Homo sapiens: one gene and its partner. The protein of the gene in region 1 interacts with the protein of each later gene in a pairwise test. Each region holds a gene or a part of one and is shown on either strand. Other genes may lie near its edges.

The links.
Region 2: the proteins of GALNT15 (region 1) and GOLM1 interact in binary tests that used the Homo sapiens proteins (3 or more experiments, as listed by UniProt).

What each region holds. Positions count from the first base shown.
Region 1 is NC_000003.12:16,176,790-16,182,243, forward strand, and holds part of GALNT15 (polypeptide N-acetylgalactosaminyltransferase 15), read left to right. Parts: intron 1-5,454. UniProt on the Homo sapiens protein: Catalyzes the initial reaction in O-linked oligosaccharide biosynthesis, the transfer of an N-acetyl-D-galactosamine residue to a serine or threonine residue on the protein receptor.
Region 2 is NC_000009.12:86,033,559-86,037,058, forward strand, and holds part of GOLM1 (Golgi membrane protein 1), read right to left. Parts: intron 2,950-3,500; coding exon 2,790-2,949; intron 2,068-2,789; coding exon 1,810-2,067; intron 1-1,809.

The DNA.
Region 1 (5,454 bases):
CAGGGCCACACACTCTTCGGATCCCTGATCTAGTTCCCCTCAGCCTGGCTGCTCAGCCACTCACACTCGAGGGTGTGCAATTGCAGGGTCAGCAGCCGGGAGTGAACATCTCCTTAAATTGTGTGCCCCGGGTGCCTCACTCACCGCACCCTACTTCCATTTCAAACCCGCTACACTGTTTTCAAGCCTTACCTTTAAAAGCTATTTTCAGGAAATTCCCACCCCATTCTAGTTTTGTGCCCTCCTTGCACCCTGGAGTTTTAACTCACAGCACTTACAAAACTAAAGCCAAATGATTATTGATGTATTTATCAGTCGAATGCCTGCTTTCCCTGCTATGCTGTGAGCCCCTTAGAAGGTCAGGACTGAGTTTGTATTGTACATCCCAAAGCCCAACATGCAGTAAAGAAGTGATTGCTGAATGAACAAACATAGTTTTCAAATTTTTTGACACTATTTTTCACTGGCCTGGAGCAAGAGTGAGCATCCTCTTTTTGCCGATAAGAAATAATATTGCCTGAAACGAGAGGGTCTGTGGCTACCAAAGTGGTCTGTGTGTGTGACTGTGTGTTTGCATAGTGCAAATGTGTGGTGAATATGCATATTTGTGGGTCATGGTATATGTATGTTCGTGCATGTGTGTTGTATATATTCTCTGTGTTGTGTGTGCATTGCATTATGTGTATTAAATGGATGTCGTGCATGTATGTGTAGTACATGCAGGTACTGCGTTATGTGGTGCCTATATGCTTGGTGCATGTTACTTTGTGTATGTGATATGATATGCACAGCTATGCATTGTGCAATGTGTCATCTTGTGTGCATGTGTGTTAATGTGCATGTATTATGTGCATGGTTCATATATGTATTGTGTATTGGGGTGATGCCACATGCATTGTTCATCTGGGTGTGTGTTGCAGTTTGCTATTTGTTTTGCATATGTTCACGTGGTGCATGTGTGCACAGGTATTGTGTTGTAACTGTGTTTCTTGTGTATGATGTGCTTCTGTGGTGCATTGTGCTATAAATGCATTGTGTGAATGGGATATGCATATATGTACAAGTGTGTTGTGTTTATTATGCATGTGGTATAAAGTGCATGGATATGTTGTATGTGGCACAAGTGCAGGTAAATTTTGTGGTGTGTGTGCTGTGCACGTATTTGTGTGTGCTGTGTGTGTAGTGTGCATGGGTGTAATACGTGTGTATTGCGTATCTTGTGCATGTGGTGTGATGTGCACATGTACTGTGCATGTACTGTGCCTGTGTGTGCTGTAGTGTTTGTTTTACATGTTTTGTGGTACATGTGTGCGTATGTATTCTTTGTGTGTTGCATGTATGTTATACATGTGAGGTGTGAGTGATACATGTGTATATGTGCAGGCATGTTGTGTATGTTATGCATGTAGTGTGATGTTCATGAGTGTGTGATGTGCACTGTGAGTTGCGTGGTGCAAGTGTGGGTACATTTTGTGCTGTGTGTGTTTGATGTGCACGTGTGCGTTTATGTGTGTGTGCAACACTTCAGTGGTTGCTTCTTCCAGCCAGAGTAACCAACTCGTCTTGACTTGCCTGAGACTTCCCAGATTTTAGCACTGAAGGTCCCAGGCAGTCGGGAGGAAACTCCTCAACCCCTGCGAAGGGAGACGATTGGATTCTCCAATCCCCAGCTTGCCAGGGTTCTCACGGAACGGCCGCCAGCTTTGTGCGGAGGTGCTCAGCGCCCTCTGCTGGCCCCGGCTGGTGCGTGCGGCCTGCGCAGCCCAGGCCTTGGCTGCAGACTCCCCTCTCCAGTCTGCGGTTCAAGCTCTGGCGCCTTCCCTTAACTGGATTCCTCGCCTGCATGCACAAGAGAGTCCCTGCAAAGCAAGGCAAACGATCTCCACCCTCCCCCCAGGGTGACAGGACTCTTCGGCTCCTACCCCTTTAAATCTGGGCCACAATACAACACAGAAGAGAAACAGGCATATATTAAGTGCCTGCAGTATGCGGGCCCTGCACCGCTGCTTTCCCACCAGGACCAGCAGAGCGCTAGGACATCAGGAGCCTGTGCCTCGGGCTGTAGCGCACCCCGTGCTATCGCCAGCCACACATCCCCTTGCAATTCCATCCTTGACTCCTAAGCCAGACAAGCCCCTCTGGCCCAGTTCCTACACCCAAATGCCCAAACTAGCTCTGCCTGTTGTCCTTTCCCCCCTGCCCAGGCCACAGGCCTTTTTCTGAGTACCTTTAGAGTCATTTCTGGAGGTCAGTTTGAATAGGTGGCATTTGAGGAAAATTACCAATGATGCAAGAGCAAAAAAGAAAAATATCAGTGGAAAAGAGGTCAAAAGACAGTCTCTGAAAAGAGAGGCAAAATTACAGTGAACATTTATTGAGCACTTACTATGTGCTAGAGGCTCTGCTAAGTGGTTTTTGTTTTCAACTCTTCATAGAAAACCTCTAAGGTAGGTTTCATTTCATGGATGAGGAAACTGAGGCACAGAAAGATGGAGGGACTGGTGCCAGGTTATCTGACCAGGTGAGTCTGACACCAAAGTCATACTCTTAACCACCACACTACACTTTGCCAGTCTGCCACTCTCCAGACCAGAGATTGGGCAAGTCACATGGGCTGGAAGTGTTTTCATCTTAAAATGGGGAGAACTCACACGGGTCCATGGGGAGACAGTTGCGGAAATGCTTATCACAGCATCCTTGATGGTGCTGAGGAGCTGGAAGCCACCAGGATGTCTTGTCACAGGGCAGGAGGAGCTGGGTGCACCCTATGAGATACTCAGCCTGAGTTAGAAGCAACAGACTCTGGGTACATTCAACAATGAAGGGAGACCCTAAAAATCCCCTGCTGAGTGAAAAAGTAAGGCACAGAAAGCGGCCTACAGCACTGTATCATTAGGGGAAATGTAAATCCATGCAAACTAACCAATCCATTCTTTACAGGAACAGAACAAACTCAATGAAATGGTTGTGCTGTGGGAAAGGGAGGGTCCTCGGGGCAGAGGTGGGGATAAAACTGAATGAATACTGAGGCAAAATAGAGAAGAGCCCATGATGGAACCGCAAACAGGAACGGGATTAACTCAGCCCTTCAAAGCTGCTGTCAAAGAAGGGGCGGGAGGAACAAGCCCGGCCCATTTAGCCTCCTGTAGCACGGATGGTTTTCAAAGTTCTTCCAGGCCCCAGCTCTCCTTTGATCATCCTGGTATCCAGTGCAGGGGCAATGGGTTCCTAGGATCAAAGAGGCTGCTGTGTGAGCCAGTGCTTTGTAATCTACATCTACGGCTGAACTTGAGCGTGCATCCGAACAACTAGATGGCTTGTTAAAAATACAGATTCCTGGCCTCCATTCCTCCAGTTTCTGATTCAGTGGGTGTGAAGTGGGGCTCAACATTTGCATTTCTGCAAACTCCTGGTACTGCTGCTGCTGCTGCTCCCAATCCAGAGACACTTTGAGAACCTCTGCTCTAAGGCACACTCTTTATGCCGAACAGACTGGCCAGAGCAGTGCTCCTCAAACTTTAAGGTGCATGCGAATCTTCTAGGCATCCTGTTAAAATGCAGTCAAATTCAGCAGGTCAGGAGGGCAGCCTCAGATGCTCCATTTCTATCAAAGGCACTCCAAGGTGGCACCAGCACTGTTGGCCCACAGAGCACATTTTTCAACAGTGAGGAGTTACACCACGACTTCCCAAAAGTATGTGCACACCCAACCCCCCTATATTGCTTGTTAAAAAGACGTAGATGTTCAGACCCCCTCACTGGCAATGCTCCAGAGTTCTGAGTTGGAGCCCAGTAATCAGAATTTTTTTAAGCTGATGCTAGATAGTCTGGGGAACTACTGGTAGAGAAAGCGAGTGGAGAGCTGGTAGAGTTTGGGAAGTTTCCACGTAGGAAGCAATACTAGAGTCAGAAAATAGAAAAGAGAGCAGAGAGGAACAGGCTCCCTCATGGCCCCGGCAGTTTGTCCCTAAACATAAATGTCAACTCAGCGGTAGCTGGCTGTGTGCTACCTGCTTTTAACTTGCCTTTATGGTTCAGCCTGTGTTTCCCTGGTTTATGTACCCATAGCTGTGATTAAACAGTTGTGGACCTGTGGTTGAATCCTGGTACCACCTGTTACTGTGTGACCTTGTACAAGTCACTCAACCTCTCTGAGCCTCAGTTCCTCAACTGTAAAATGGGATAATAATAACACCCTTGCATAAGGTTGTAGAGAAAATGAGACACAACGTGTGATGATTTTCCTTGTGTATTAAGTCCAAACAGAAGTTGCCCTTATCATATTCTTGAGTAAATGGCCTAGGAGTAAGTTGGAGTGATGGAGAAAAATGGAGCTGTGGATATCATATTGCTGTCCTTTTTCTGACTGAAAAGTTATTTTCTGGCCCTGGAGGCTGCTAAATCATCATAAATGTGCAGGTACATTGGAATTATCTGGAAAGTCTTAAAAACTATTCATACTCATGCTCCACTTCCAAGGATTTCTATTTAGTTGGTCTGGGGTGAGGCCTGGGCACCAAGAGCTTAAAACTCCCCAGGTGGTTCTATCGTGAAGCCAGGCTGCAAGGCCCCAGGTGGTCAATGGCTCTTCACAGCTGGTGGGGAGAGCTGGGAGGGATATCTTCTGCTTTGTTCCCCACTTCCTGCCCCAGAGGCCATAATGGGCAAGGGGTCAGAGGGAAGGGCAGGGGCGGGAGAGTCGCCTTGGCTGCAGCTTTGTTGTCAAGTAGAAGATGGTGTTGCAATCCACGCGGGGTCCACTCAGTTCCCTGTGAAGACTCTGTCCTGCCAGGCCGTGATTCACCCCAAGATGACTCCCCACACCCCTTGTTGGCTGTGATAGCCTGGCCTGCAAAAGAGGAAGGAGGCAGCTGACAGGGCATCAGTAAATCCAAGAGAGCAGACATGCCCTTCGGGATGAGGGACAAGAACAGGAACAAGCTGGGCTTGAGACCTGGGGCTGGAACTTAGCTCAATTCCCCCCACAAGAGAGGGAAGACAACCCAGTATGGGCAGTGTGAGTGGTGCTTATGGGGCCTGGCTGTCCAAGTCGTGAAGGGATGCCACAAACACCAACCTTCCAGCCCTCGAGTCCACAGTGGCCGCAGCAGAGGCAGTACCTCCTCTGGACCTCCACTCTGGATCCATCACCCCGCAGTGGGGTTGCAGCGTAGACAGAGCTGACTATATAGCGCCCTTTTTTGGGTCAAATGCATTCATGGTAACAAGTGTGGTAGGGTCTTACCCTGCACTTCAGGACAAACCCAGCTGGCCTTGGGGGTTAGATTAGATGTGGTTAATCTGCACCTTGTCCTGGGGTGGGAGGAATTGATGTTATTTACTCCAGTGCCACTCACAGTGTGGTCCTCAGACCTGCAGCCTCAGAAATGCAGACCCTTCAGACCCCACTTAAACCTACTAGATGAAATCTCTACTTTAACAGGATCCCTAGGT
Region 2 (3,500 bases), on another chromosome or scaffold:
CACATGCATTATGTGTACTCCACTTGGACTCGGAATCTACAGACAGCATGGCCCTAAATACAAGGGTGCATTCTAGGCAGAACATGGAGAAACTAACAACCCAAATCTCAATTTTTTAAAGAGATAATCAACTCAAGATAAAAGAAAGGTGCCACTGTTTTAGGAAGGAACGGATATCTACAGCTAATGACAGCATCTCCTTAGAATGGAGAGAGGAAATGGAGCTGCCACTGTGAGACACGTGAGAAGGTGTCCCTCATACTTAGAGCATGAGAGCACCCATTACTCTATTCTTCCCTGGAGTGGGCAGCAGCCAGAGAAGATGAGGACAAAAGGCTTTCAAGAGACCTACTCAAAGGGTTTAACTTACATATTTTATATGTGTATGCAGGCTGGTAAACAAAATCTTTTTTTTTTTTTTTTTGAGATGGAGTCTCACTCTGTCGCCCAGGCTGGAGTGCGGTGGCGTAATCTCGGCTCACTGCAACCTCCGCCTCCGGGGTTCAAGCGATTCTCCTGCCTCAGCCTCCCGAGTGGCTGGGATTACAGGCACGTGCTGCCATGCCCAGCTAATTTTTGTATTTTTAGAAGAGATGGGGTTTCACCATATTGGCCAGGATGGTCTTGAACTCCTGACCTCATGATCCGCCCACCTCGGCCTCTCAAAGTGCTGGGATTACAGGCATGAGCCACTGCGCCCGGCCAAACAAAATCTTTTTTAAAAGTGCACACCTGGAAAAGCAGCTCTAGTCTCTTTCTCTGGCTCACTGCCTGGGGTGGAAACTGCACAGGCCTATGTGTCCACCGCGTTTCTTCAAATGAGGTCACCACACCTGCATCTAGAAGCAGGTGCATCCTGCAGGCACTGTGGCATCTCAGGCCCACCTTTGTTACGCTTTGTGACCAGCCGCTGAGGGGTCTGACACTGGAGCGCCACAGGCTGAGCGAGCCAGTGAGATCTCCCCGCCTCACACACCACAAGCATCTTCTTGCTGGGTGAGCACGGAACACAAGGACAGAGCAGGGATACTTAGGGGGAGGCTGACAAAATCCAATTCTTTAACTGGAACTTGGAAGGACACGTTCTTCAGTAAGACACTGAAGTGAAAATTAGATTTAAATGGAATCAAGGTAACTTCTGCAAATAAGTGTATTCTCCAACTTCTGTGACTTGGTCCACCCCAGAGCGCAGGTGTCATGTCCTCAGAAGTGTTCCTGGCTCAGGTGGGAAGGACATTTTCCATATCTGAAGGGACTGAAATACATCCTGGAATAGTCGGTTGATCTCCAATTCCTACCCTTTATTTCTTTAAAAAGAAAAGAGTCAACCAAACCAAAAAGGAGTGATTCACATGTCATTTTTTCTCAATGTTCACATATGCATTAACCTTCATCTACCCAATATTCCTTCCTTCCTTCCTTCATTCATTCACTAGGCACTGATTGTCTAAATGGCACCAGACACTGCACGACGGTGGACATACAAAAATGGGGCATGTGGCCTGCCTGCCAGGAGGGGGCGTCCACTTGATGCTAAGCACCCATCTGCAGGCCATCCACTTGCAAGGTCCCCTCGACTCCCTGCCAATATTGCATCTAAAACCTCGAGTTCTAGAGCATATGCTGCTCTTCCTTCCTGCCTCCCTCTTGATAACGAATAAGAAACCTTCAAACGAAAAGGAATTGGCAAATTGTGGACTGCTGTTTGGTAAAATTCAGGGTGATATGTTGGTGCTGGGAAGGACATGGAGGTGGGCTGGGTGTCTGGTGGAAGGGAGTCCACAGCGGCCCCCGAAACTTCACACCCACCTTCCCCGGCAGCTTCCTGCTCCTCCTCCTGTCCGTCGGGGATGACAAGCTGGTCTCGCTCAGGGCCCTCCATCTCTGGATTTTCCTGGCTCACTGACAGGGCAGCCTGCACCTGTGGGGTCTGGCCCAGTTCTCCGGCTCCCCCGAAGCCTCTTCCACCTACAGGTCTGTCTTCCACCACCTGCTCCCGGCCTGGCTCCTGCGGCAGCCTGTCCCTCTGAGGCTCCTCATTCACCACCTGGATCTCATTGGTTTCCTCTGTGCACAGAACACAGTTAGCTGTGACCTTGCCAGCATTTGATTTAAAAAAAAAAAAAAAAAAAAAAGCAAAACCTGGTGCCACTCAATTCCCAGAGCCTTCCCAAGGAGTGGGGGTGGGGTGGGCTGCACACAGGAGAACAACCAGGTAGCTCCTTTTGTGACCTCAGCCACAGACTGCAGGCCTTTCTGTGCCTGCAGCTCATCGTCAGAACCGCGACAAAGGGAAAAGTAGCTTACCAAAAAAAAAAACAAAACAAAAAAAAAAAAACACCTGGACTAAATTACCTTGACAAGGTACAAAGGGAAAAGGGTATCCTGCTGAGTGACCTGATCATCGGGTCCGCTGGAGCAAGCACTTGGGAGCCAGGGCAGGCAGGCCCACCCAGGGCTTGCTCACAGACACAGCAGCCTCCTGGTTCCCAGTGTCTGGGGCTCAGCCGCCTCCCCCGAGTCCCACAAGCCCACCAATGTCCTGCATAAAGGTGCAGCCTGGGCCTTTCTCTACACAGCTGCCCAGGAACAAGGCACTTCGTTTACAAGGAGGAGACATCTGTCAGAGAAGCCCCAAAGCCCCAATTCCAGGGGCCCAGAGAGACACGTCCCTGCTCCTGGCTGCGCCGCTGCCGGGTTCACTGACTGCCTCAGCAGCTCGCTGGGACTGCTTCCTCTGATGGGGCTCTGGAGAGCTGGGAACAGGGCAACTGCTGGGCTCTGCTTACCTTTCTCAACTTGTCTCTTTGAATCCAAAACCACTTCGGAACTGGGGGCTGGTGTCTGGGACTTGCTGTTACCAAGCACGTTTCCCTTCCCTTGTGGCACCTCTGTGTGTGGCAGGCCTGCTGCCTGCAGCCTGGGCTGAGGCTCACTGAGGGCTTGGAGCTGAAACAGAAGCACAGGACAGCCAGCCAGGGCAGGGCTCTGTGAACAGAAGCCGTAAAAGAATCCTACCAATGCAATGAATCCCACCAATCCCACCACCATATCCTTCCAACCAAGACCCCGAGAAACGCCACAGTCTACTCTGGTCACGCCCTGGTCATGTGGCGTAAATCAGAAGACAAGAGGTTGAGTCAAGGTCTCCCAGAAAGTACTGTCAATACAGAATAAAACTGGGCAGTGATTCTGCTGAGAGGAAGCATTTACGGAATAATAAAATACCTAGGCGGAAGATCAACAACAAAAAAGACATGAACGACACAATACTCCTTGACGAAACAAACATCTGCAGAACCCTCAGCCTAGCAAGGGCAAACACACCTGCTTCTCAGGCACACACACAATATTTTCCAGGATGGACAAATGGCAGGCCACAAAGCAAGCCTCCATACACTTAAATATTTAACTAAAATCACACAAAGTAAATTAATAGAAATGGAATGGATTATAAATCAATAACAGGATGAAACTTATGACATTTGCAAATATTTGGA